4 linked regions of the Homo sapiens genome follow. The protein of the gene in region 1 interacts with the protein of each later gene in a biochemical or structural test. Each region holds a gene or a part of one and is shown in the gene's direction. Other genes may lie near its edges. The genes, in order: IQGAP1, PIP5K1C, BRAF and EZR.

Region 1 (7,246 bases):
CCGCAGTTATGGGATGCGCTTCATTGCCAAAGTGCTGAAGGACTCGTTGCATGAGAAGTTCCCTGATGCTGGTGAGGATGAGCTGCTGAAGGTAAGAATCTCATAGCCGGCAGACTCCTGCCCTTTGAGGACAAAGCAATAAAACCAGGGCTGACCATAGATCATTACTAACTGCCTAAGTGTAGGTTCTGGCAGTAGCTTACCATTGATTGTGAGCTTTTGAAAGCAATTGTAATTGGTAAATGGTACCTCTCTTAGGATGAAACACTTCCTATAGTTTGGCACACAAACATCAAACAAGTAGAAAGATGGATTTTTCCTGTTTTCAGATGAGTTTCTTTGAGTCCTATCTTTTCGCTGTAGTATTGTTCCCTCTGCTGGTGACCTGGCGAATAGTAGCAGGCACAGTTGTTTCTGCTAAGGCTGTTGCTGATAACTCTTTCTTACTCAGCTATGCTCTTCTCTTTTCTTTTTTTTTTTAATCTGAATGCTTTTTTCTTCTCTCTCCTAGTTCTGTGCTTTCCTACAGTGAGGCCTCGATTCTAGACTTTCTGTTCAGGTGAATTAATTTTATTTCTTCTGAATGAAACTCTAGGGGAAATGCTGTGACTGCCCCTGAATTCTTCTGTGGAAGAGATGTGTGTTAAGTGAATTTAATTTCAGAGGCATGAACTTGGCCTTTGAAGTCTGCAGCATGAGAATGTTGGGAGGTGGGGTTACTCTATGCTGATTGGGTCATGTTAAGGAATTTAGCTATGTTTGTTAGCTTTTTATAAGGAAAGCCCATCTACATGAAAGTACAAAGTGCATGTGGGTGACAGCAGCCTTATTTGCTACCATGATATGTGAACAAAAGATGCCCTGAAATACTTAATAACAGACTTTAAGTGTGTCATTTTTACCTTCTGAATCTGCTCTTTCATTAACTACTGGCAGTAGTTTTCAGTTCTGTTCTCATTGTTTTCCTGTATTGAACAAAGGGATATTTCATTTAGTTCCAGGCCATGAGAGAGAGTGTGTATATGTGCATGCATGCGTGTGTATATGTATTTTTTATTTATTTTTTCCTCATAGGACTGCATTTTCTGCTTTTCTTTGCTAGCAAAGTCATTTATAGCTTCCTTGGTGGTATGTCTTTTAATACCCATCTTTCTGTTTCGTCTGTTCCAGATTATTGGTAACTTGCTTTATTATCGATACATGAATCCAGCCATTGTTGCTCCTGATGCCTTTGACATCATTGACCTGTCAGCAGGAGGCCAGCTTACCACAGACCAACGCCGAAATCTGGGCTCCATTGCAAAAATGCTTCAGCATGCTGCTTCCAATAAGATGTTTCTGGGAGATAATGCCCACTTAAGCATCATTAATGAATATCTTTCCCAGTCCTACCAGAAATTCAGGTAAGGGGAAAGGCACAAGTGCTTAAGAGAGTCTGTGGATGTATTTTTATTGTTGAGGGGAAAAATAAGATTAAAAACCACCTCTCACTTTCCCCGGACTGCCATATGTAGAAGACGTGTTTGATGTGCCCAGGATTCCAGAAGATGATCCATTTACTTTGAAGAGAATTTTCATATGAAATAGATAGTAGTTAACACTTATGAAATAGATAGTAGTTAACATAAAAATAATGATGATTATGCATTTAGTACATGTTACCTTGTAATCAGAGAAGAATTGGAGAATGCTTTTAATTTTTGTAAATTAACATCTAGTTTTGAATTCAGTGCTTCAGAGCACTGTCTTAGAGATAGAATTGGTTCTCCTAATGGTGTCTGGAAACTTTTAAGTCATGGTGCAATGGTTCTTATGGGTAAAACTAAAACTACAAACTAGGTGGAGAAAGAAGTTATTCGAACCACTATCCCAAGGTTGTCAAGCACAGCAAACACACAGCACTTTCTCTTGAAGTAACTGTTGACTGGCTTCTGTTTGCACTCATTGTGTGAGAGGTTTGTGAAATGTCCTCTTGCCAACTTCATGTGTATGTCCCTTTTTGGGGGGCTGCCTCCTGTGCTTATTTCAGACGGTTTTTCCAAACTGCTTGTGATGTCCCAGAGCTTCAGGATAAATTTAATGTGGATGAGTACTCTGATTTAGTAACCCTCACCAAACCAGTAATCTACATTTCCATTGGTGAAATCATCAACACCCACACTGTAAGTATTTTTCTTTAATTACTTAATTTCATTGTCCTTAATTATTATCCCTGGCTGCTGCTTATCATCTCTGGTAGCCAGGTGTCTAACCTTCCTGTAATCTAACTGACAATGCATCTCCTTGATGTCTCTTTTTTTGCTTGTTATTCTTTTTTGTTTATTTATTTATTTTTTGAGACAGAGTCTCACTGTGTTGCCCAGGCTGGAGTGCAGTGGCGCGATCTCGGCTCACTGCAAGCTCCACCTCCTGGGTTCACACCATTCTCCTGCCTCAGCCTCCCGAGTAGCTGGGACTACAGGCACCCGCCACCGTGCCTGGCTAAATTTTTTGAATTTTTGGTAGAGACGGGGTTTCACTGTGTTAGCCAGCATGGTGTCGATATCCTGACCTCATGATCTGCCCACCTCGGCCCCCAAAAGTGCTGGGATTACAGGCGTGAGCCACCACGCCTGGCCTTTTGCTTGTTATTCTTAACAGTATCTACTGCTAAGTTTCTAAAAGGTCTTCCCAGGCCACCTGCATCAGAATCCTATGGGCTGATAGTTAAAAATGAAGTTTCCTGGACACCGCCCCAGGCCTACTGAATCAAAATCCCACTAAATTTATCTATTGCCTTAATAAAATAGTGCTTTTACTCTTCTTTCTTTTTACCCTAGCTCTCTGCGTTATTTTTCTAACATGATCTAGAATACTAGCTTTCTCTGTGTAGCCTTGGAGTGGATTTTTCCCTTGGAAGCTGGAGCTCCATGTTTCTTCAGATTTTTCAAATCATTTTTTCCCCTCTGGGGACATGGACATGTAAAACAGGAACAAGGGCATATGTTAAAATGTAAATGAAATTTCAGGTTACTGTCATTTCTGAGGGCATCACTGGGGATAATGGCACCTTGAAGACTTTGTTGAGTGCCCCTACAATAATTATAACATTGATTTGGTATACTTTTCTCTGAATTAAATCATGTCATACACTGGAAACATTAAGTAAAAGCGTGCACGTGACTTATTTGAACTGGCAGTAGGGTACATTGATGACTTTGGGTATTGAACTTTGAGTTTCAGTGTTTTGTGGGTTTTTTGTGTTTGTTTGTTTTGTTTTGTTTTTTTGAGATGGAGTCTTGCTCTGTCACTCAGGCTGGAGTGCAATGGCGCAATCTTGGCTCACTGCAACCTCCACCTACTGGGTTCAAGCAATTCTTCTGCATCAGCCTCCCTAGTAGCTGGGATTACAGGCACACACCAGCACGCCCAGCTAATTTTTGTATTTTTAGTAGAGACAGGGTTTCATCATGTTGTCCAGGCTGGTCTTGAACGCCTGACCTCAGGTGATCCACCCGCCTTGGCTTCCCAAAATGCTAGAATTACAGACGTGAGCCACTGCACCCAGCCAGTGTTCTTTCTCAAACAGGGCACATTTGAATCCTTTATGGCCATGAGGTTAAGAGAATACCAGTATTTCCTCTTCTTATATCATAACATAAGTCATTCAACAGAGCCTGGTGTGGTGCCTTATATATCATATTGTTTATTTGGGTTAGTTTGCTGAGGATTTGCTTGTTGTTTCTTTGAATATAGGAACTTTGTTGGAACCTCTTTGTGCAGATCATTGTTAGACATTCTAGGGAGGGACGGGCTGAAGAGTTGAATGTATAAATGGAGTTGATCATTGGTGTTTGCAGCTCCTGTTGGATCACCAGGATGCCATTGCTCCGGAGCACAATGATCCAATCCACGAACTGCTGGACGACCTCGGCGAGGTGCCCACCATCGAGTCCCTGATAGGTAGAGTTCTAACTTTTGCCTGGAAGATCAAAAGGGAATGTGACAGAAAAGTGTTGTAATTGTCACCTCCTCTATTTTTTGCACTATACCAAACTCTGGATATACATTGAGAAATAAAATAGATGTGATCCTGATAGTTTCATAAGAGAGAAAACAACAACAACAACAAAAGCCCAGATGTGATCAATATCTATAAGGAACTGGAGTCAGAGGAAAAGATCATTTTAAACGCAGATACATACTGCCAGCTTGTGTTTTTTTAAAAAAATTGCAGATACATAAATTAAAAGTCCTCTAAAGGAAAGAATTTTTTTGTTTGTTTGTTATGAGACAGGGTCTCCCTCTGTTGCCCAGGCTGAAGTACAGTGGTGCAGTCATAGCTCACTGCAGCCTCAAATTCCTAGGCTCAAGTGATCCTCCTGAGTTGTTTTTTTTTTTTTTAATAGAGATGGAGTCTCACTATGTTGCCCAGGCTGGTCTCGAACTCCTGGCCTCAAGCCATCCTCCTCCTTTAGCCTTCCAAAGTGCTGGGATTGCAGGACTGAGCCACTGCACCCAGCCAGAAAGAATGTTTTCAGAGAGAATTGTGATATTGTAGTGTTGAAATGATTTCTCAAACATTTATGGAGTTATTATGGATCCCTTGCCTTTATCATTTGGCATAACATTTTATTTCTCAGTAAAAGTTGTTCTCGTCACACTGTATGTGTTAGGTGATTCAAGTATTATCTTAGACTTGCATCATCTTATATTTGTATTATTTCCCCCCAATATCTCCTCTCTTTATTACGCTGACTCTTTCCACCCTCCCAAAACTTCAGGGGAAAGCTCTGGCAATTTAAATGACCCAAATAAGGAGGCACTGGCTAAGACGGAAGTGTCTCTCACCCTGACCAACAAGTTCGACGTGCCTGGAGATGAGAATGCAGAAATGGATGCTCGAACCATCTTACTGAAGTGAGTATCAAAAGAAGGAAGAATGAAATGAATGTAATCTGAAGGTTTCTTGGCCTTTGGAGAGGAACCTGCTGGGTCCTACCTGAAATGACCATCCTGACCTCTCGTACTTGTCATAATCCCAGTCACCAATCACCTCGCATATTGTACTTGGTACAGGACTTATCTGCCTTATTTTGCTAATATGCTACAGTGAAATGTAAATCTTGGAAATCCTAACCCTCGTACCTACTTATGGAATGGCTGGGTAAATAAGCCTTGTGCCTTGAGTACTGTGTACTGGCAGCTGCCGCTTGGGACTTCTGTGAGGTACTGTTTGTGCTGCTGCTGCTGCTGCTGCTTCGGTCCACTTGAGAGGAACTAGAACACTGGTAATATTTAAATGCCTCCCCCATCTCGTTTCAGTACAAAACGTTTAATTGTGGATGTCATCCGGTTCCAGCCAGGAGAGACCTTGACTGAAATCCTAGAAACACCAGCCACCAGTGAACAGGTAAAATTTAGGGTCTAACATACTCCTTTGTTTGGTAGATAAGCTCTCCCGATAGGCGCATGTCAGAGAAAGGAGGGGAGACACAAATAACAGTTGGTAGCCTAGGGGTGAGCATGAATGTAACTGGGGGACAGTGGTAGTTATGGCTCGTCTGAGAAAGTTTTTGCTTCCTGAGTCCAGGTGATGTCCTTTGGACAGGAAGCTCACTGGCACTTGCATGCAGAATCATTGTGCCCATCCCGTATATCCATCCCTTGGTATCCACAGGCGATTCTTTCCAGCACCCATTCTCCCCACCCCCGGCCAATACCAAAATCCATAGATGTTGAAGTCCCTTATATAAAATGGTGTAGTATTTGGCCGGGCATGGTGGCTCATGCCTGTAATCCCAGCACTTTGGGAGGCTGAGGTGGGTAGTTCACGAGGTCAGGAGATTGTGACCATCCTGGCTAACACGTGAAACCCCGTCTCTACTAAAAATACAAAAAATTAGCCAGGCTAGGTGGTAGATGCCTGTAGTCCCAGCTACTTGGGAGGCTGAGGCAGGAGAATGGCATGTACCCAGGAGGCGGAGCCTGCATTGAGCCAAGATCGCACCACTGCACTCCAGCCTGGGCGACAGAGCGAGACTCCGTCTCAAAAAATAATAATAAATAAATAAATAAATAAATAAATAAATAAAATGTTGTAGTATTTGCATATACTTACGTTCTCCCATATACTTTAAATCATCTCTAGACTACTTATAATACCTACTACAATATAAATGCTGTGTAAATAGTTGTTACTGTATTTTTAAAATTTGTATTATTTTGTATTGTTGTATTTTTTTTTCAAACAGTTTCAGGGTTGGTTGAAACCATGAATGTGTAGGGTTCACTGCAATTTATTGAATATTATATATTTTGAATTCTGTTACATGCCTTGGTAGATAGAAGAAAAGTACAGAATGTGGCTCCTAAACTCAGTGAACCCATGGTCTTGTTGGGGAAATGTGACATATATACCTGAAACAGTGATGAACTGTTTCAAAATTAACTATGTTACTGACTGAAAAATAAGAGAAGTTTCAGGAAAGAGGCCAGTGAAGCAGTGCATTAGGAAGCTTCCTAAAAGAAGTGGAACCGGAGCCAGATGTATAAAGGTGGAAAGGATTTGGGTGTGCATGTAAGACAAGAGAGGGCATTCGAGGCAGGAGAGCGATGTGAACAAAGGTACAAAGGAGGGAAGAGCATGATGCGACTAGACTACATGTCTAGAATGGAGCTGTGGGTGGAGGTGAGTAGTGAGAAATAAAACATGAGACCAAATTATTTAGAACTCACAAACTAGATGGGAATTTGTCACTGCAGAGATAAGGAATAAAGAGCCTCTGTAAGGTTGAAGACCATTTAATAAAAGTTAATTAATTCAGCAGTGCTATTAGAGCAGATGTAGTTGAGTCATATAGGTGTGTGATAAGGTCCAGTGGGGTGGGCAGATGGTTGGGTCCTGGCATTTTGTAGGGTTGGATGAGTCATGTCATATCTAAGACCCTTGTTTCTTTTTTTTTTTTTTTTTTAATTTGAGACAGAGTCTCACTCTCACTCAGGCTGGACTGCAGTGGCGTGATCTTGGCTCACTGCAACCTCCGCCTCCTGGGTTCAAGCGATTCTCCTGCCTCAGCCTCCCGAGTAGCTGGACTACAGGTGTGAACCACCACACCTGGCTAATTTTTGTATTTTTAGTAGAGACAGGATTTCACGATGTTGGCCAGGCTGGTCTCAAACTCTTGACCTCAAATGACCCACCCACTGTGGCCTCTCAAAGTGCTGGGATTACAGGTGTGAGCCACTGCACCCGGCCATAGACCTC
Region 2 (7,246 bases), on another chromosome or scaffold:
GCCCGGGTCTGCAGCCCCACAGGTGGGCGCCTGGGTCTGCAGTCCCACAGGTGGATGGGCGCCCCCAGGACACCCATGCACAGAGGCGCTTGCCCGTGGAAACAGCCGCACCAGCAGCTCTCGGGGCTTCCTCAACCTGGAAAGCTCTTGCTTGGCTGCCCCTTCTTGAGCCCTAAAGGGAAGGTGTTTGGTCGCCTTGAAAATCTAGAGTGAGTTGGGCGTAGTGGTCCACACCTGTAATCTAGCACTGTGGGAGGCCGAGGCGGGAGGATTGCTTGAGCCCAGGAGTTTGAGACCAGCCTGGGCAACATAGCAAGACCCCATCTCTACAAAATATCAAAAAATTAGCTGAGCGTGGTGGTGCTCCTGCAGTCCCAGCTACTTGGGAGGCCGAGGCAGGAGGATTCCTTGGGCCCAGGAGTCTGGGGCTGCAGCAGTGAGCTATGATGGCCGTACTGCACCCCAGGCTGGGTGACAGAGCAAGACCCTGTCCCAAAAAAAAAGAAAAAAGAAAATCCAAGGAGTGGGTTTGAGGCCTCACTTTGGGGCTCGAATATTTGTTTTTTGGTTTTTCATTTGTTTGTTTTAAGACAAAGTCTCGCTCTGTCACTCAGGCCGAAGAGCATTGGTGCGATCTTGGCTCACTGCAACCTCTGCCTTCTGAGTCGACCCTATTCTCCTGCCCCAGCCTCCCCAGTAGCTGGGATTACTGGCACGCGCCAGCACGCCCGGCTAATTTTTGTATTTTTAGTAGAGATGGGGTTTCACCATGTTGGCCAGGCTGGTCTTGAACTCCTGATCTCAGGTGATCTGCCTGCCTTGGCCTCCCAAAGTGCTGGGATTACAGGTGTGAGCCACCGTGCTCAGCTGGGGCTCTAGAATGTTTAAAAACAGTCACCCCCTCGGTACTATGGACATTGGGACCAGATGGTTCTCTGGGGTGGGGCCGTCCTGGGCCCTGCAGGGTACTGAGCAGAGAGCCTCCACCCACTCCCTGCCAGGAGCACCTGCCACCCTGAGTTTTGACAGCCACGACTGCTTGAGGCCATGGCCCAGTGTCCTGGGGGGTGCACAGTGGCCCCTGAGTGAGGTGGCCTGGCATGGGCTTGGCTGATGTCAGCTGCCACTCCGGGTGCTCTCTCCACAGGTTCATCAAGAAACTGGAGCACACCTGGAAGGCCCTCGTCCACGATGGGGTGAGCGCCTGCACCCTCCTCCCATTCCTCCTCCCATCCCTCCTCCTCCTGTGAGTGCCTGCACCCTCCTCCCATCCCTCCTCCCTCTGTGAGTGCCTGCACCCTCCTCCCATCCCTCCTCCCATCCCTCCTCCTCCTGTGAGTGCCTGCACCCTCCTCCCATCCCTCCTCTGTGAGTGCCTGCACCCTCCTCCCATCCCTCCTCTGTGAGTGCCTGCACCCTCCCCCCATCCCTCCTCCCTCTGTGAGCGCCTGCACCCTCCTCCCATCCCTCCTCCCTCTGTGAGCACCTGCACCCCTCCTCCCATCCCTCCTCCCTCTGTGAGCGCCTGCACCCTCCTCCCATCCTTCCTCCCTGTGAGCGCCTGCACCCCTCCTCCCATCCCTCCTCCCTCTGTGAGTGCCTGCACCCCTCCTCCCATCCTTCCTCCCTCTGTCCTCCTGTCTGTCGTCCCAGCCTTCCTCCCATCCGTCACTCCACAAACGCAGAGTACCGCCTGGGGCCAGGCACTGAGGACTAACGTCTGTGTGACCACAGCCTGTAGAATCCAAGATCCCAACAGGCACCCCCATTTTTCAAAAGAGCGTGTAGAAGGTCCAGGCAGGAGCTTCCAGAATAAGCCTTGAGCGGGTCAGGATGGCAGCTGGCAGAGGCCTCTGGGGATGTCTTAAACCTTGCCAAGGCCCGGAACCTGCTGCCCAGGGCAGATAGGAGCGCTGTCTCGGCTCTGACGAGGCTGGCCAGGGTGTCCTGTGCTGCCGCCGCATGTCCCTGGGGTTGTCCTTGTCCCCTGGCCCAGAGTGGCCGGGCACCACCTCCCACTGCAGCCTGCGGGGGTGGAGTCGTTCACAGTCCTGGTACGTGGCCACTCCTCACCCAAGGAGGCTGGGAAAGGAGGTTGCATTCTGGGAGGCCGAGATCACATCCCAGCAGGGCCCCAGCCAGGCCATCCTGCCTCAGCCTCCCCTACAAGTCCACGTGGGCCACTGTGCCTGGCCGGAATACTTTATTCAGCTGGTTTAAAAAGTCAAAAATGCTAACAGGTCTCTAGTGGAAAAGCCTCCACCCATTCCCTGGCACCCAGTCTCCCTCCCCAGAGGGAGCCACTGTTCCCTGTTCCGTGAGCCCCTCCCAGGAAGCCATGGCGCCATGGACCCATCTCGAGCCTTTTCACACAGAAGGTGCCCCCCACACACATACAGCGTCTGTCTGGGGCTGTCCCCAGCTGTTGATTGATGCACCCTCTGCCCCCGGGCACCCCCCCCAACTCTCTTCCAGGACACGGTGTCCGTCCACCGCCCCAGCTTCTATGCCGAGCGCTTTTTCAAGTTCATGAGCAACACGGTCTTTCGGAAGAACTCCTGTAAGCCACCTGAGCCCCGCAAGGCGGGAGGGACCCTGGGGAAGGCCCAGAGCGCCGTGGGGCAGGAGGGACTCTGCGGGAGGCCGAGAGCCCCCTGGGCAGGGCAGTAAACTCAGAGCCCCTGTGCCCCCCTCAGACCGGGCCTCATCCGGAGGTAGGGTAGTCGGGATATTTGCTCTGCACAGCGGTAGAGCACGGGTCTGGAGCCACCGCCAGAGCCTGAATCCTAGCCTGGCCTCGTCCTGCCCATGTGGCCTTGAGCAGGCACCTGCCTCTGTGCCTTGGTTTCCCCATTGGCACAGCACTGTGAGGGTACAGTGTTTATATATGGGATGGGTGGGCCTGACTCAGCAGATAGCTCACAGTGTGTGGGGCTGCCCACAGCATCACCATCGCCAAGGAAACGCACCCCGGGCAGGGGAACGCAGGAGGCTAGCCCAGCAGGGCATGGTCGGGAAGGTCCCAGGGCAAACAGTGGTGGGGAAGGTGGGGACTCGGGATTCACCCACAGGGTGCCCGGGGGAGGTCCCCATCTCTCAGGGCTCAGCTTCCCCTCATGGGCCACTGTAGCATCTGGACGCAGACTCTGGGTTCCAGGCCCCTGTGCAGACCTCAGCCCGTGGCCAACCTGCTGCCAGATGGATTCCCCCCTGGGGTCTGTTTCTCAGCCACCCTCCCCACCAGAAGGCTCCCGGGCTCCCCAGCATCCTGCACAGGCCTGGCCCACAGAGATGCTTGGGAAGTGTCTGGTGGGGGGCATGAATGATCTGCGGGTCCGCACCCACGGGGGTTGCAGGGAGGTGGCAGGGACAGGCACGCCAGTGCCCAGCGCTTGCAGGCAGGCTGCTCTTCCCGGCCTGCACACTTGCTCACGGCCTCGAGGTCAGGGACCCCCTCTCATCAACACCGTGGGAATTGGCAGACACCACGTGTCAGGATCTGTCTCCAGAGAGCCAGCCGTTGAGCCTGTCCCCACACCCCACTCTCTGGGACCGATGCCACAGGATCATTCCGTCATCCAGGGCTGTTTGCCAGCCTTTGGTGATTGTAGGAAGCTGCACAAGGCAAACTGAGCACCTACTGTTTACCAGGAGCTGTGTGGGTCATTCTGGGGGCAGAGGTCACAAGAGCTTGGTGAGGAGGCAGAGCTCACACAGCACTGAGGACAGGCCTGGCCCTGTGCGGGACATCACCTGCCCCACCTCACCCCACCGCTAAGGTCGGCCCCCAGGGCCCAGAGAGACCGAGCCGCACAGCCAGCGGGTGAGCCTGGATCTGCGCTCAGGCCCTACATGCTGAGCCACAGGCTTCTCTAACCACAACACCTGGTGCTCCCCAAGGCTGTCAGTGTCCATCTGAAAGTGGGGGCCCTGCCCGGGCTGGGCCGCACATAGAAGGGGTTGAAGCCTGCAGGCATCCCTGGCCAGCTCATTAGATGGGAGTCACTGGTCTGCAGGATCCCAGGAGGGGCAGGCACTGTGCCAGGTCCCAGTGTGTCTCATAGAGACAGTCGGGTGGGCAGGACAGGGAACTCGGGCTCGCAGTCCCTCCCCAGGCAGACCCCGGTTTTCCACCAAGAGGTTGTGGTGCTTCCTGGCCTCAGGGACCGGTAGGGGTCTGGTGGGCCACAGGGACGTGGGGTATATGTGGGCGGCGGCCCTGTCTGGGCTTTGCTATGAGCCCCCAGCAACCCCAAGCACCAACCCCCACCCTTCCCTGCAGCCCTGAAGTCCTCGCCCTCCAAGAAGGGGCGCGGCGGAGCCTTGCTAGCTGTGAAACCGCTGGGGCCCACCGCTGCCTTCTCGGCCAGCCAGATCCCTAGCGAGCGGGAGGAGGCCCAGTACGACCTGCGGGGGGCCCGCAGCTACCCCACGCTGGAGGACGAAGGTGAGGGGCAGAGGGCAGAGTGCGCTTGTGGGCGCTACAGGGGGTGCCAGCAGCAGCCCCGTGGGTGGGGTGCCGCCTCATCCTGAGTGCCCATCGCTCAGCCACCCCCTCCGGATCTGCAGGGCCGCCTGCCCAGGGAGTGGGGGCTGCTGGGACCGCCCCAGGGAAGAGCCCAGGGGGAGCTGAGTATAGAAGGCTCCACCAGGTGGGGTGGTGACAGCTCCCGCCTTCTCTCACGGCCACTGTCATCTGAGGTGCACCAGGATGCCATCGAAGGCATGCAGCCCCCAGGCTAGGGAATGAAGGAAGGGACATAGCCATGCAAGGGCCCTGGGGCAGGACCACACCTGCTGAGGGAACAGCAAGGAGCCCGTGTGGCCAAGCAGCGCGGAGGGGAAGGGAGGGGGGGTGGGGAGGGGAAGAGAGCAGTGGAGGGGAAGACAGCGGGGAGGGAGAGTGGAGAGGGGACGGGGCCAGGCTGCACAGGGCCCTCTGGGCTGTCTGGATTCTATTTTGAGAGCGGTCAGAAGCCTTTGTGTGAGGGGGAACGTCGTCCTTCCCTGCCGTGTGGGGAGGTGGGAGTGTCTGGGAGGCGGGCGGGCACTGGGCTGTGGGTTCCCAGGGTGAGCCAAGCCTCAGGGAGAATCGACTGTGTGTTTGGGGGCTCGGAGGCTCCGCAAGGTGCCCACAGTCCTCTCCCCTCAGGCCGGCCCGACCTCCTGCCCTGCACGCCACCTTCTTTCGAAGAAGCCACTACAGCCTCCATTGCCACGACTCTGTCATCCACATCCCTCTCCATTCCTGAGCGGTCCCCCTCGGAGACGTCGGAGCAGCCGCGGTACAGGTGGGCGAGGCATCCGCAGTGCATGTGGGCGGGGCATCCGCTGTGCGTGGGGGCGGGGCATTCACTGCATGTGGGCGGGGCATCCGCTGTGCATGTGGGTGGAGCATCGTATGTACGGTGGATGTACATACACTGCATGTGGGTGCGCGGGGGCGGAGCATCCAATGTGTGGGAGGGAGGAGCATATGTACAGGTGGGCAGGGCTGCCAGGGGGCAGGTAGGCAGGCGGGTAGGCAAGGCAGGTAGACTGAGCAGGCGGGCCACTCTCTTTCTGGGTGTCACGTGTTTGCTGTATCTCTGCAGGCGGCGCACACAGTCGTCTGGACAGGATGGCAGGTGAGACCCAACCCCCTTCCTTCCCTGGGTCTCACCAGCTCCTCCTGCACAGCTCCCAGCTCCGTTTCCCGCCCCCCAGCCCCTCTGCTCTCTGCCCATTCTCTCCTGGGGACAGATTTAAGATTGTAGCACTCGGCCCTAGCACCGCACACAATCTTCCAGCCACTTTGTTTTTCTTACAGCCAGAGCCAGGGCAGCTCTGGTCTGTGGATCCTTCCTTATTTCTTCTTCTATTAAGTTTTTTTTTTAACTTAAAACAAGATACAAGAGGGAATATCGTGAAATGCGCCCCCTCCTGCCCACGGCCTGTCCCCTCCCCAGGAGCAACCACTGGGACTGTGGGTTTTGTCTCTTGGAAGATACTTTCTGGGAACACAGCAGACGTGCACCAGGCTTGTGGTTCCCTTTTATTTTGACACAAATGGGCACACCCGTGCACGCCGCCCACACCTTGCTGTTGTCACTCGACTGACGGGGATCTCAGGGGTGGGTGCGCGCCGTTCCTGTCACGCCTGCGTGCCGTCCTTCCATCCCATGGACTGCACCTGGCTTTAAGTGCCCAGCCCTCGGGGACATTTGCGAGGTCCCTGGGGTCTCACTCTTGTGAACACTGGGGCAGTGGCGCGGTGTTGCTTTTCTTAACCGTGTTTTAATCGCTGCCGCCTGGTGAAAGAAACCCCTTGGTGCCCTGGGTGGGATGTGACCCTCCCTGCAGTCTAGCGTGCCATTTGGAGAGACATGTTACATGGCCAGGCCCGGCGGCCGGGACACTGAGTCACTTGTGTCAGGGCCTCGGCTGCCAGGTGCAGGCACTGCCTGGAGGGTGGGCAGGGTCTGTGGCACCCACACCGGTCGGGGCTGCCATTTGCTCATATGCCCCCAGAGCCCGCTACACCCCAGGCCCTGCTGGCACCACAGTCACCAAGGGACCCAGGTGGACAGTCCCCGGGCTGGGAGTGACAGCCAGAAAGAACAGACCCAATCAGGAGGCTCCCAACTCCCCTCTGGGACTGGCCCTGGAGTTCACTGGGCACTCCTGGGGGTAGGATGGGGGAAGTGAGGAGGGAAACCGAGGCACAACCTCCCATTGCCTGCAGGCCGCAGGAGGAGCCACCCGCGGAAGAGGATCTGCAGCAGATTACAGTGCAGGTGGAGCCTGCGTGCAGCGTGGAGATTGTGGTCCCCAAAGAGGAGGACGCAGGGTGAGCACGGCCTCGGCGGGAGGTCGGGGCGCCCACCTGCTGCGGGCCCAGAGGAGCCAAGAGCACCCCGAGGTTTCATCATGAAGCAGTTCTTTCTTACTAGGTTGTATTCACAGATGGTGGATTTTCCCATAAGTTTATTTTTTGATTGAAGGGAGTGGTTCTCGACTAGCCGGGGTGATCCTAGCCCCCAGGGGACACTGGGCGATGCCTGGGGACATTTGTGACTGTTAGAACTGGGGGGTGCTCCTGGCATGGAGTGGGTGGAGGCCAGGGACGCTGCTCAGCATCAGCCTGCAGTGCCCGGGATGGCCCCACCCCAGAGAAGGACCTGGTTCCAGTGTCCACAGGGCCCAGGCAAGAGACCCTGGGCTAAGGGTTGTGTAAGAGCATCTCTGAACTTCCAAGTATTTAACT
Region 3 (7,246 bases), on another chromosome or scaffold:
GACACAGGGCAGGGAACATCACACACTGGGACCTGTCATGGGGTAGGGGGAGGGGAGAGGGACAGCATTAAGAGAAATACCTAATGTAAATGACAAGTTAATGGGTGCAGCACACCAACATGGCACATGTATACATAAGTAACAAACCTGCAAGTTGTGCACATGTACCCTAGAACTTAAAGTATAATAAAATAAAAAATAAAAATAAATTTTTTCCATCCTAATATTGACTTCAGTCTTAAATTTAAGTTTTGTATTTTAAGAGTCATACTTTTAACTACTATTCTTCCAGAGAATTTTTCTTAAGGGGATCTCTTCCTGTATCCCTCTCAGGCATAAGGTAATGTACTTAGGGTGAAACATAAGGTTTTCTTTTTCTGTTTGGCTTGACTTGACTTTTTTACTGTTTTTATCAAGAAAACACTTGGTAGACGGGACTCGAGTGATGATTGGGAGATTCCTGATGGGCAGATTACAGTGGGACAAAGAATTGGATCTGGATCATTTGGAACAGTCTACAAGGGAAAGTGGCATGGTAAGTATGTAATGTGGTGACATTGTGACAAGTCATAATAGGATATGTTTAACAACTTTTATTTTGTAAAAAATATCATCAAAGGAAATATTCACTGTTCGCATCAATAAACTATTTTGATTAGTTTCAGGACTCCTCCAAAAGTTTCTAACAAAAATTATGGGAAATAAAAACTGTTCACAGCAGTCGGGACTCCTACCATTTTATTACAGTAATAATTTTTAAAGGGGAATTCCTCCAGGTTAACTAGTCCTCAAAAGGATTTTATTTTCTTTTAGAGTCTTTCAGCTGATAATTTTATTTGTATTATAAGTCACAAGTAAACATATTAAAAATGTACTTAATGGCTGGGCGCAGTGGCTTATGCCTGTAATCCCAGCACTTTGGGAAGCTGAGGCTGGCTGATCACGAGGTCAGGAGATCAAGACCATACTGGCCAACATGGTGAAACCCCATCTCTACTAAAAATACAAAAATTAGCTGGGTGTGGAAGCACGTGCCTGTAGTCCCAGCTACTTGGGAGGCTGAGGCAGGAGAATCACTGGAACCCAGGAGGCGGAGGTTGCAGTGAGCTGAGATTACGCCACTGCACTCCACCCTGGTGACAGTGAGACTCCGTCTCAAAAAAAAAAAATTAACAAAGAAATATAAGTGGCCAGTAAACATATACAAAATGTTCAGCCTTACTAGTTATCAAAGAATTGCAAATTCAAAAAATAGACATCATTATTTGCCTCTTAGTTGGACAAAATCTTTTTAAATTGGATTATATTAAGAGTAGTGGATGTATTTTCATCAAAGGTTTAATATCAATGAAAAGTGAAAGTGAACATGTATCCAACTAATAGAGAATTGGATAAATTTATACCATCATATGTGATTATATAGGAGTTAAAATGGCATGGTAGAGGTACATTTATTGATGTAGAAAGGTGTCTTTGGTATATGAAATTTTTCAAAGCAGTATGTGTAAGATACCATATTATGGAGCTCATAGAAATATATAACATAATTTTTTATATGACAGTATTTTAGGCCAGGCACAGTGGCTCACGCCTGTAATCCCAGCACTTTGGGAGGCCGAGGCAGGTGGATCACCCAAGGTCAGGAGTTCGAGACCAGCTTGGCCAACATAGTGAAACCTCATCTCTACTAAAAATACAAAAAATTAGCCAGGCTTGGTGGTGGGCGCCTGTAATCTCAGCTACTCAGGAGGCTGAGGCAGGAGAATTGCTTGAACCTAGGAGGTGGAGGTTGCAGTGAGCCGAGATCCCGCCATTGCACTCCAACCTGGATAACAGCGAGACTGTCTTAAAAAAAAAAAAAAAAAAGACTGTGTTTTAGTTTTTATCTCCTTAATCTATCTTTTCACAGGTGTTCATAAATATTCACACTAAATTCATGTAAAAGCCTAATAACATATAATGTCACTTTTGAGTGACATAATTAAGGGAATTTTTTTATACCTTCAAAATGTCTTTAAACTTTTCTTAAGTGCTGTACAGTATTTTATGATACAAACAGTAGAATAAGCACTGTATTACTTTGATAATTGAGGAAAATCAATGTTGATTTAACTTATTAAAATATACATACAGGTTGAGTATCTTTATTTATTTATTTTTGTTTGTTTTGTTTTGTTTTGAGACAAGGTCTCGCTCTGTCGCCCAGGCTGGAGTGCAGTGGCACAATCTCAACTCACTACAACCTCTGCCTCCCAGATTCAAGCAGTTCTCCTACCTCAGCCTCCTGAGTAGCTAGGATTATAGGCGCGTACCACCACCCCTGGCTAATTTTTGTATTTTGAGTAGAGACGAGTTTTGCCATGTTGGCCAGGCTGTTCTCAAACTCCTGACCTCAGGTGAGCCACCCACCTTGGCCTTCCAAAGTGCTGGGATTACAGGTGTGAGGCAGCACACCTGGCCAGGTTGGGTATCTTTAATCCAAAATCCCAAACCCGAAATGCTCCAAAATCCAAAACTTTCTGAGTGCTGACATGATGCTCAAAGGAAATGCTTATTGGAGGATTTCATATGTTTGGATTAGGGATGTTAAACTGGTAAGTATAATCAAAATATTCCAAAATCAGAAAAAATTTGAAATTTGAGACACTTCTGGTCCCAGGCATTTTGGATAAGGGATACTCAGCCTGTGTATAAAAGTGCACATAAATTAGCCAGGCATGGTGGCATGTGCCTGTACTCCCAGCTATTGAGGAGGCTGAGGTGGGAGAATGGCTTGAGCCCAGGAGTTCAAGGCTGCAGTGAGCCATGATCACACCACTGCACTCCATCCAGCCTAGGTGACAGAGCAAGACTCTGTCTCTAAAAAAATTAAATAAACAGAACATTACTAGCACTCTAGAAACACCCTCCCATGTCCTCTTCTAGCCAATCACCTCTCTCCCAAGGGTAACCACCACTGTGATTACAACAGGAAGTGCATAGTGTGTACTCTTTTGTGTCGGCCCTTTTCACTCAACATTGTTTATAAGATTCATCTATATTGTTGTGTGAAGTTGGAGGTCATTCATTCTCTTTACAGTATTTCATTGTGTGACTATAACATGATTTCTTCTTTCATCTGTTGCAATTGGATCGTTTCCAGTTTGGGGCTTTGATTGATGCTGGTGCTGTAAACATTTTTAGTGTATGTCTTTTGGTGAACATGTAACCATTGATGGGTATATATACCTAGGACAGAATTGTGAGACCACAGGGTATGCATATGTCCAGTTTTAGTAATGCTGCCAACAATGTTACAAAGTAGTTGTACCAATTTAAACACCTACTGGCAGTGTTGACGTTACAGCTGTTTCACATAAAGTTTTTTTTTTTTGATGATTTTAATAAAATATCATTTTCTTTTTTTATTATTATTATACTTTTAAGTTTTAGGGTACATGTGCAAAGTGTGCAGGTTAGTTACATATATATACATGTGCCATGCTGGTGTGCTGCACCCATTAACTCACATGAAGTTTTTTTTAAATTTTAGTGACAGTTTTAGTCATTTTCCTAATTGAAAGTATCATAAGTAATCCATAAATTTGAAAAAAATGTTAACTACTCTGATAAAAAAGTTTTATAGTTTCCTACTTTTAAGCAAAATTCCATAGGGCCTGGTAATTGTAGTTTCAACATTACTTGCAGTTTCAGTTAGTAAATAAATATTAAGCCTAGTAAGTATAATTTAATATTGTCAAATAATTTGGAAAATACCATGGGTACTTAATTGATTTTACCAAATTTCCATGGAACAAACAAGGTTGGCTATTTTTTGGATTGATATTTTGAAATACTAGTACAGGAATATCATTGTTAGTTGAATTTTTAGCCTTAGAAAACAAATGGAGTTTAGATAGCTAAAGTATAATTTATTTGTGATTTAATAATGGTATGGAGTTAGGGCTATGATAATTAGTGAAAACACCCAAGAATGTTTTATACTTTTAAATTTTAAAAATTGAAATGACACTTGGAGTAACAATTGCCTTTTAGGTGATGTGGCAGTGAAAATGTTGAATGTGACAGCACCTACACCTCAGCAGTTACAAGCCTTCAAAAATGAAGTAGGAGTACTCAGGTGAGCTTGTGTGAATTACTCTTTTCCAGAGAAAGAAGTTATTTTTATTAGCTCCTGGTTCCCAGTGGTAGCAACTATTAGCTTTACAGATTTACTCAAAATGAATAAATTTGTAGAAACAGAGTATGTCTGAGTATATTTTTGTCTTTAACCACATTCTTTTAAGTAGTATGCAATGTTATATGGTATGGCTGATAGAATACTTAGTCCTAGACTGAATTAATGGAAGTATAGTATTCTGATAATATAAAGTAATAGTTCTACTTATGAAAAGAATACTCTCCAGTTTTAAGCTTATCAGAATACATTTAGAGGTGGTATTTAGTCCTGGGCTCTGGAATTTTAGAAACATTGACAAACTAGGATATGCCTAGTGAGGACCACCTAAATAGGGAAGATTCTAGAGGTGTAACGGGGGAAAATAATCAACAGAACTGAGGATATTTAGTTCACAGAAGGCTGTTATGTTCAAGAGAGTGCACAGTTATTCCAGAGTGCGGAAAAAAAAGTTATTCCAGAGAGCAGACCAGGGAAGCAAGCCAGAGGTGAAAGTTGTAAGAAAATGATTTTGTCTCAACACTTGGAAACTTTATAATACCAGAACCACTTAAATAAAGATATGAGAGTCAGCTACAACTGAGTGATGAACTTCCCATAGTTGAAGGTATTTAAGCAACCTCTAGTTGCCTGTCAGATATATTTAAAAAGATATCTCTGCATAAAGTAGGAGGTTAGACTTGGCAATTGCCAGTCTCTTCTAAATGTATCCTTTTGTTGCCTTTTTTAAAAAAAAAAAAGCTTTTTCTGACAACATTTTACCGACAGACTACTTTGGTTCTCTTTTGTAAGAATTGCTAAAGTTTGTCGACATTTAATGTTTACTGTCACATTTCTTTGTACAGGAAAACACGACATGTGAATATCCTACTCTTCATGGGCTATTCCACAAAGCCACAACTGGCTATTGTTACCCAGTGGTGTGAGGGCTCCAGCTTGTATCACCATCTCCATATCATTGAGACCAAATTTGAGATGATCAAACTTATAGATATTGCACGACAGACTGCACAGGGCATGGAGTAAGTTCCATTCGTTAAATGTCTTGTAAATTATTTTTGAAGACCATTGAGGATGTTTTAAAGGTTTTGGCTGCTATTCTTTTGGATTGCATTTTAAATTACTGTCCAGGAACATAAGGATGCTAACTAATGGCTGGTAAATAATATGATACTAAAAAATAAATGTCTCTGTCTAGTGCAGCCTTCAGAACATATATCAAGTATTTGATAATAAATACATGACTGCAAACTTAGGCTTAGCACTCAGTGATTGAGCTAAGCAAGAGAGGTTCAGAAGATAGAAACAGCAAAAACCTGCTAAAAAGTTGTTAGCAGTTGTGCAAGTAAACAGAATGGTTGTTAGTTACTTTTTCAAATCAGTTTCTCTGAGTGCCCGTATTTTTGGTTGCAAAATGGTCAGTTAATAAAGTTAAAGTGAAAAATCTGCATTCTGACCCTTTTTGAGGATTTCAGAGTGAGTTCCTATCTGTTGAATTTTGCTATGCAATTTAAGGAGTTATTTTATAAAGTTTACCATAAGCTAATATGGGGAACTGACTTTGAAGGATAAATTTTAAATTTTGCAACTCTTAAGTGCAAATGAATAGGTAAATTAAAAGGTAAAATTAAACAAATTTTGAAAGCACTTAGGTGAAAATTATAAACTCAGTAAAATATGAATTTGAAAGCTCTGTGAGAAGTTTAAAAATAGATATGATCTGAATTTTGTTTTTTACAAATTGCTTTCACTTACATAGATTATTATGTCATTTAATCTTTATAATGTTATGAAGGAGATCTTTTTTCTTTTTACAGATAAGGAAATTGAGGCTTTTAAGTTCCTTGTCTAAGGGCACACATTTAATAAGTGGCACCAAAGGTGTTTAACTCAGGATTTCTGACTCCCAATCCAGTATTCTTTCCCCATAACCACTATGCTACTTTTACATTACAAAATTAGAATAAAAGAGTAAAAGGGTATATATGTACTAACACCTACAACTCTAACTGAGTATTGCTCCTAGCAAGTAAGTATAGAGCCAAGACTCTAAACCAGATCTGGCTCTTAGATCTTCCAACTATACCACCTTCTCTTTCTCAAAACTAGGCAATATATCTATAATTTAGATTGTTTACAAGCCTATATTCGGCCAAAATACTTATTACAGCAAATTATTACCTTATTCAGTAACACCCCCACTTACCCCTAGACTTGAAACAATCTCAACGTTTCAGATAAGTTAGAATCTCTGAATCTGTTCGAATCTAAAGGCTTTTAAAGAATTAAAATCTTGGCCAGGCACAGTGGCTCACACTTGTAATCCCAGAACTATGGGAGGCCGAGGCAGGCGGATCACCTGAGGTCGGGAGTTCAAGACTAGCCTGACCAACATGGAGAAACCCCGTCTCTACTAAAAATACAAAATGAGCCAGGCACAAGCCTGTAATCCCAGCTACTTGGGAGGCTAAGGCAGAAGAATCACTTGAACCCGGGAGGCAGAGGTTGCAGTGGGCCAAGATCACACCATTGCACTCCAGCCTGGGCAACAAGAGCAAAATTCCGTCTCAAAAAAAAAAAAAAAGAATTAAAATCTTGTGAAGAGTAAACCATGGCAAAGATTGTGAACATTCAGTGAGAAACAAAGGCTTATTCTCTTCCCACACCACTGGTCTCTTTGCAATTTCTTCAGCAGGCCAAGCGTGTTCCTTCTTTAGGACCTTTATGTTTGTTATATTCTCTTTAGGATACACATGCCACAAATATCCTTGTGTCTCGGTTCATATGTCCCCTTTTAATAGAAATCCTTGCTCACCTTATATAACTAACATGTCCCCACGTCACTCTGTCACTCTCTATACCCATAGGCTTGATTTTCTTTATAACGCATAGCTCCATCTGACTTGTTTCTTGTCTTTTATCCCCACTAGAATGCAGGCTGTATGAGAGCAGGGGCTTTTTTTCATTATTTTATGCCTAATGCCTAGAATGGGACCTGGCATACTCAGTACATAACTGTTAAATGAAAATGATTACACACAACTGCATATTATTGATAGATTTACCTTT
Region 4 (7,246 bases), on another chromosome or scaffold:
GAATGGTAATTTATTTTTATGGTTTCTTTTTTGTATTTTGGTAAAATATACAGTTTATCCTCTTACTTTTAGGTTTACATTTCAAGGTATTAAGTACATTTACATTGTTACATAGCCATCACCAAGGTCCATCTCCAGAACTTTATCTTCCCAGATTGAAACTCTGTACCTATTAAACTCTCCCTCCCCATCCCCACCACCAGCCCTTGGCAACCACCATTCTACTTTCTGTCTCTATGAATTCGACAACTTTAGATACCTCATGCAGGTGGAATCGTGATAGCATTTGTCCTTTTGTGACAGTCTCATTTCCTGTAGCATAATGTCTTCAAGGTTCATCCATGTTGCAATGTCAGAACTCCCTTCTCTCTCTTATTTCTTATGGCAGGTATGTTTTCATTTCATTTTGTTTTAGAGGTCTTTTATGATAGATCAGAACTTAAAAGATGTTTCTGACATTTGATAAAGTGAAGATAGTTGTGAAACTGTTAAGGAAAGACAGTAGCCATCACCTTGTGTATTAGAGCCAGAGTTACTCTTTGAAAGACTGTATTCTGTATAATATCTACAATTAAAATTTTTAAACTTTTTTTGAGGCCAGGCGAGGTGGCCTGATTACAGGCACGAGCCTGTAATCCCAGCACTTTGGGAGGCTGAGGCAGGCAGATCACATGAGCCCAGGAGTTCGAGACTTGCCTGGCCAACATAGACTCTGTTTCTACAAAAAATAGAAAAATTATCTGGGTGTGGTGGCTGGCGCTCTGACTGAGGCTGAAGTGGGAGGATTGCTTGATGAGCCCTGGAGGTCAAGGCTGCAGTGAACTAAGATCAAGCCACTGCATTCCAGCCTGGGCAGCAGAGTGAGATGTTGTCTGAAAACAAACAAAACCCCTTTTTTGAGAGGCTTCCTTTTAGGTCAGCCATACCTGTCTGCCATGGGAAATTTCTCCCTGCCCCCTCTTTGGCAGAGGAGGGTCTTAGAGATAAGTTAAACACACTAAGCCTTTCTGTGTGTAAATTATATTAGAGCCATCCCACAAATCACTGAGAAGAGCATCGTAGGTTGCACATATTTGAATATGACATTTCTTAAGGCTGTTAGAGAGGATCCAGTTAGTTTTGGTTTGGTTTGGGGTTTTTTTGCTGCCTTAGTAAATGTTAAAATGAAACATCCACCAACAGCTCTGTGGATGTGTCCTTTAAACAAAGGTTTATTGATTCTAATTATTCAAGCCTAAGTTAAGAATGTTAGCGAAGAATGTTAGGTGGTTTTCTTGGGCTTAATGTTTAACAACTGGATTAAGGGGCAAACACACTTAAAGGATGGATACCTCTGAGTAGTTGGCCTTCCACCTGATTCATTGCAACTGTTAACCCTTGAATTCAACGGGCAAAGTATTTTTGATTGATTTGCCTGAACTGAGTGAGTGGATGACTTTATTCATAAAACAGTATAACTGAAAATACTCATTTCCTGTGTTTTCTCCTAATACTGTTTCCCAAAAGCAACAGTTACTTAAAAGACTGAGGCGGTACACAGTGGCTCATGGCAGTAATCCCAGCACTTTGGGAGGCCGAGGTGGGCGGATCACAAGGTCAAGAGATCAAGACTATCCTGGTCAACATGGTGAAACCCCATCTCTACTAAAAATACAAAAATTAGCCGGGCGTGGTATGGATGCCTGTAGTCCCAGCTACTTGGGAGGCTGAGGCAGGAGAATCGCTTGAACCTGGGAGGTGAAGGTTGCAGTGAGCTGAGATTGCACCACTGCACTCCAGCCTGGCGACAGAGTGAGACTCTGTCTCAAAAAAAAAAAAAAAAAGACTTTATTCATCAGCAAGCGGAGTGACCTGCACAGAGGGCGAGGCAGACCTTGTTCTCTGGAAGCTTAGTGTCTGGTACCTGGGCCAAGATGCGGGGTAAATGCTGAAATTGAAAACCCGCTAAGTGCTGTCAGACTGGGAAAGAGCCTAGGTAACGTCGAGAGGAAAATCTGATGGGGAAAGGAAAATCATCTGATGGGGAAATTGGCAGACTGTATTGAGAAGTAACACTTCAGCTGAATCTTGCTTGAGGGCTGGGGGGCGCACGCGGCAGCACTCCACAGGGAGGAACAGCTGTGGTTTGTTGTCTGGTTTTGCTTTTCCCACAGCTGCTTAGGGACTCTATTCATGTGTGACTGGCTGACGTCCAAGGAGGGTGATTTGGGGTTCCAGAGGGAGCCTTGGCCTCTGTTCAGGCCAGTCCCCAGGACATGGTGTGCTGTGTGGCCTTGTGGGTCTGCCCCATCTAGGGAGAGTTGTAGGAGTTGGTGCTCAGATCATTGGTCCCGGAAGCATCCTCTCTGCCCGCCCCTTCATGTTAGGGTGACTGCGGAGCGCCTTTCTCCCACACTTGCTTTCTTCTGCCCAGTGGAAAGAAGGCATGGGGAGTGAGCAAGGAACACTGCTGTAGTTAAGCTCTGGAAGGAAAAGGGGATTGTGTTCAGGGCTGAGATCTCTTTAAGCTGTCATGAGAACCATAGAGCTGAACTGCCTTTAAGTGGCTCCAACACATCTTACCTGTTCATTTCTGAAGTGTTATAGACATTTCTAATACAAAAGCAGGTTTACCTTTCATTAGGAAAACTCTGAAAGTGTGTTCACATTTCTACTGTGCCAAAATTTTAAGGTAATTTCTGAGATTACCTTGCCTCTTTGGGAATACATAACCTTTTCTATTAAATATTTTAACAGGGACAGTTTACTGAATGTACTCCCCCCTCACAATCCCCTCGCAATTGAGGAGGATGCGTAGCATCTGTTTCCACCCCTCCTCCTCCACGAGGGGCAGTGGTGAATTAGGTAGCTAACATTTTGCCATGTGGCAGTGAGAGGTGCTGGTAGGATGAGTGATTTGCCATGATCACGCTGTAAGGCACAATGAATGTATTTGGATGTTCACAGACACAGTCCCTGTCAGTGGATTTACAGTCTGGTTTCGGGGACAGACAGCAATCCCAGAGTAAATGTAAAACTGCAGCTTCAGAGAGTATGCCTGAAGAGGGGTACATGAGGCCTGAGAGTAGATGAAGTGTGTATGTGCTGGTGGGGGTGCAAATAGGGGAGGTCAGGAAGGCATCCTTGAGGACGTGACCTCCCTGGGCAGAGGTAACAACGTGTGCAAAGGCCCTGTGGTGGGAGGAAGTAGTGTGAGTTTGGGGTTTCACATGAAGCCCAATGTGGCTAGAGAGGAAGACAGGTCAGGCCATGCCTTGTAAGCCATTCTTGGGTGTTTTTTAGTTTAACTTGGGGTTTTGACTGGGAGGTGACATGATCAGATTTGCCTTTTGAAAAGTTGACTGTGATCTGTAATAGGAAAATCACAGGAGGCAGGAGACAGCAAGGGTAGTTATGGTAGACCATTGAGGGAGCTCATAGCTTGGACCAAGGTGGTGGTGGTGGGAACAGAAGTGGATGCATTTGAGAGTTCTTTGGGAGGTAGAATTGATAGTGCCTGGTGATGGGTTGGATATGCAGGGCCAAGGGTGGTGTCGAGGCTGACTTCTCGTTTCTGGCTTGCGCAAGTGGATGTGTGGTGGTGCCATCGCTGAGGTAAGTAATCCTGGAGAAGGACCAGGTGTGGGGGAAGGTGGGGAGTCTGGATTTGTTGTTACATGTTAATAAGTTTGTGACAATCGTTGATGAAAAAAGTCCTTGCCTTCTTTCATTACTACATCCACTGCCCCCCAAAATATTAAAGGACCAGACTCCTTAAACTACGTTATTTTTAAATCCAAATAATTCAGTAGCTTTTTGTTTTCCCTAGTATATGTACACACCGTACATACCTAAAGTTAAGAGGAAGGGTTAATTTAGTGCAGTGTTCTCAAAATTTTGTGTACACAATTGTCTGGAGACTGTTGATTCCTGGGTCCCTTGAAGAACTAATGACTTCCATCTCTAGGGTGAGGTGCAGGCTGGGTGCTTATGTTTTAAATAAGCTCTCCAGATGGTACTGCTGATTCAATAGGAAAAGGGCAGTTATTATATATTCCTTTCTCCTGCACCCCAATCAAGCCCAGTGTGATTTCAGAGCACCCATTTGGGTGAAAGCAGTCACTTGATGCCCAGCCGCCTTACAGTCCGGCTGAAATGCCAGGAGTGCTGTTATTGGTATTTGGGACTCGAATAGGGGCTAGGATGACTCTGTGAAAAAGAGCCATAAAAACAAGAATTTCATAGCTAATTTACTGCTTACCTATACTTGGGCAGGCCATTCAACATAATATTCTTCTGACTTGAGTTTCTCTCTGCAGGGAGTCCAGTAACAGCTTCATTTGGCAGTGCCCAGTGGTCTCTCACATTTTGGCTCTTTGTTTTCAAAGAGAAAAAAAGAGGCTAGACCTTCCCTATAAATGGTAGGGAAGTAAGAGATCCCATTCCTTGTTCCTCTTTTATTCCTTCCACACTGGCCTCTTTTGTTAATGAAATAATGTGAATTTTTTTTTTTTGGAAACAGGGTCTCACTCTGTCACCCAGGCTGGAGTGCAGTGGCACAGTCACAGCTCACTGCAGCCTCAGTGCCCCGGCCCCCACCCTTGGCTCAAGTGATCTTCCCACCTCAGCCTCCTGGGTAACTGGGACCACAGGCACACACTACCACACCCAGCTAATTTTTTATTTTTTTGTGAAACAAGATCTCACTGTGTGGCCCAGGCGGCTAGTCTCAAATTCCTGAGCTCAAGCTATCCTCCTACCTTGGCCTTCCAAAATGTTGAGATTATAGGTGTGAGCCACCATGCCTGGCTGATAATGTGATTTCTAACAAATGTTGAATAATTATAGTTTGGGAAAGGAAAACAGTATCATTTAGTGAACTATAATTTTTTTCTTAATTTTTTTAACTTAAACTTTTATATCTCTTTGACAATTTGGAGATTCTTAGGGTGGTTTGATATACCTGCTTTCTAATGGTAGTTAGATGTTTCAGCTCTATTCTGAAGCAGTGAAATTCAGTCTGCTTTCTAATGGTAGTTAGATGTTTCAGCTCTATTCTGAAGCAGTGAAATTCAGTCTGCTTTCAAAGTCAGTGAATGCATTTTGAATTATCCCTTATTTCATTTCAGTAGTAACTACCTTGAGACTCCCCAAGTACTCCAATTAGTTTTTAATTTCAGCAGTAAATGTGTGTTGAAAAGACCAAAGTTTGCATTATTTTCCTTCTGATGTATTTACCATCCATGCCTGTTGACATAAAAAGATTTTTCCAGACTTGGGTAGTTTTCAGAACCAAACAAAACCCTTGTGCTATAATGTGACTTAGAGACTTTTGACTGAAATGCTTGATATAGTTAATACACATAATTTTTTTCAAAATGAAACCACAAAGAGCTATAAAGAGAATTTCATAGCTAATTTACTGCTTACCTGTATTTGGGGAAGCCATTTAGCATCTGTGAACCTAAATTTCGTCAGCCGTAAAATGGGAGTTAGTTTTTAAGTGGAAAGAATGTTACATAAGATAAACGGAGACAAAGTTTTTATCAGTGAAATCCAAACAACTCATCTTAAGATGCTGTAAGCTTTATGTGTTTCTTTTGTGTTTCCCTACCCCGCAAATGTTTTTCAAACTTAACCCTGTTAGGTAAAAACTCTGGGTTCCTATAAACGGGTAAAGTTTGTCCATTGGTCTTCTCAAGGAAAAAGCAATATGAACAGTTTGGGTTATCTTAGTAAAAGGGAGGACTCTGATTTTGTCTCATGTCCATCCTCTCTCTGTGTGTTCTAGTCGGAATTCCCTTATCAGTCACATGGGTACCACCTTCATGTTTTGAAGCGCTATTATATCCCATTATGTGCTTGGTGCAGGGACAATAAAAATAAGATTGGTTTTGCCTTTAAGGAGTTCTCAGTCTCCTAGTGAAAGCAGATATGTAAGCAATTACAATGCAGTGTAGTGCATGATAGAGGTCTTCACAGAAGAGAAGTGTGCCCTGGAGACCAGGGAGGGCCTCCCGGCTGGTAAGATCCTTTGGGTAAGTGTGGAGGGATGTGGGCTTCCCAGTCAGCAGTGGTCAGTTCTGTTTTCCTTTATTCATTAACCCGTTCTTAACACTTACAGGCAAACAGTAATGCTGTTTCAAAGGAAATGTAAAACTTCATTAAGTTATCCTTTTAATCTAATATACTTGAAAACAAAACCTTAAAAGCAAAATAAAAAATATCTCACCATGACCCACCTTTTATTGATAGGAGAGGAACCAGTATCACCTGAGGATCAAACTCTAGTAGTCAGTATATCAGATTTTGCTCATATTTTTAAGTTAGAAGTCACTTCTGCAACCTAATTTTGTTTTCCATTTTTGCCTGAGAGATCAATTTTAAACTGCCTGTGTGGACAGTTGTCATTTCAGATACTGTAAATAATTGTTTTTACTTTAGGATGGGGTAGGTAAACTATCATCTTAGGGCCGAGTCTGGCTGTGGCCTGTTTTTATTTGGTCTCCCAGCTAAAAATGGTTTTTATATTTTTGAAGGATTTTAAAAACAACAATATGCAACGGACTCCAAGTAAGACCCTCAAAGCCTAAAATACTTACTGGCTGGCTCTTTAGAGAAACAAATGGACCAACTCCTGCTTCTAGCATAAAAATAATTATTGTTAAGCATTTATTCTAACCTTGTATATATTTTATGGCTGGACTAATATTTGGAAGCAGATCCACCCCATTGGTTCCAGTTTTTAAAAAATTGTTCTCAAAGAACAGAATGTGTTTTGTTAGCCAATGTTGAGCACATCATGGACTCTGAGCATGGACTCAGAAACTACTGAGGAGAGGCATCGTGGTGCTGAGGTAATGTTTTAAACAAAGCTGGTGTTTGGGTGGGTCTTTGTGTAGAGAAAGTGGCAGTATCTTGTGTCACACTTGCTAAGCTATTGTGTAATGACAGATTTCTGGCATATGCTAAAAGAAAGCAATTTGTACCTGATGTTTGAGTTGGAAAGAGAATGTTATGTAAATGAATTGCTTTTTTCCTCATTGATAGTTTAAAATGAGCTTTTGATCTACTATAGTCTGTATGTGAATTTCTGACTGCAGATGTTTTGTAAGTCCATTCCTGATTCAGAACACCCTGTCTAAAGTACAGCTCCATCTCTGTGCCGTGCCCCACTTTACTGCACTCATAGAACTCGGTCTCCACCTATAACGCTGTCAGGTGCTTGTTTATTTGTGCTTTTTGTCTTTTCTGGCAGCAAAGCAAG

What was found.
Region 2: the proteins of IQGAP1 (region 1) and PIP5K1C form a complex in vitro, tested with the Homo sapiens proteins (one study listed by IntAct).
Region 3: the proteins of IQGAP1 (region 1) and BRAF form a complex in vitro, tested with the Homo sapiens proteins (2 studies listed by BioGRID and IntAct).
Region 4: the proteins of IQGAP1 (region 1) and EZR form a complex in vitro, tested with the Homo sapiens proteins (one study listed by BioGRID).

The regions. Positions count from the first base shown.
Region 1 is NC_000015.10:90,482,191-90,489,436, forward strand, and holds part of IQGAP1 (ras GTPase-activating-like protein IQGAP1), read left to right. Parts: intron 1-6; coding exon 7-91; intron 92-511; coding exon of another isoform or gene 512-532; exon of another isoform or gene 533-559; intron 560-1,170; coding exon 1,171-1,403; intron 1,404-2,029; coding exon 2,030-2,162; intron 2,163-3,839; coding exon 3,840-3,942; intron 3,943-4,763; coding exon 4,764-4,899; intron 4,900-5,304; coding exon 5,305-5,392; intron 5,393-7,246. UniProt on the Homo sapiens protein: Plays a crucial role in regulating the dynamics and assembly of the actin cytoskeleton.
Region 2 is NC_000019.10:3,641,288-3,648,533, reverse strand, and holds part of PIP5K1C (phosphatidylinositol 4-phosphate 5-kinase type-1 gamma), read left to right. Parts: intron 1-1,147; coding exon 1,148-1,196; intron 1,197-2,475; coding exon 2,476-2,560; intron 2,561-4,282; coding exon 4,283-4,447; intron 4,448-5,152; coding exon 5,153-5,291; intron 5,292-5,594; coding exon 5,595-5,627; intron 5,628-6,724; coding exon 6,725-6,829; intron 6,830-7,246. UniProt on the Homo sapiens protein: Catalyzes the phosphorylation of phosphatidylinositol 4-phosphate (PtdIns(4)P/PI4P) to form phosphatidylinositol 4,5-bisphosphate (PtdIns(4,5)P2/PIP2), a lipid second messenger that regulates several cellular processes such as signal transduction, vesicle trafficking, actin cytoskeleton dynamics, cell adhesion, and cell motility.
Region 3 is NC_000007.14:140,774,865-140,782,110, reverse strand, and holds part of BRAF (serine/threonine-protein kinase B-raf), read left to right. Parts: intron 1-417; coding exon 418-535; intron 536-4,035; coding exon 4,036-4,120; intron 4,121-5,022; coding exon 5,023-5,199; intron 5,200-7,246. UniProt on the Homo sapiens protein: Protein kinase involved in the transduction of mitogenic signals from the cell membrane to the nucleus. Phosphorylates MAP2K1, and thereby activates the MAP kinase signal transduction pathway. Phosphorylates PFKFB2.
Region 4 is NC_000006.12:158,809,123-158,816,368, reverse strand, and holds part of EZR (ezrin), read left to right. Parts: intron 1-7,246. UniProt on the Homo sapiens protein: Probably involved in connections of major cytoskeletal structures to the plasma membrane. In epithelial cells, required for the formation of microvilli and membrane ruffles on the apical pole. Along with PLEKHG6, required for normal macropinocytosis.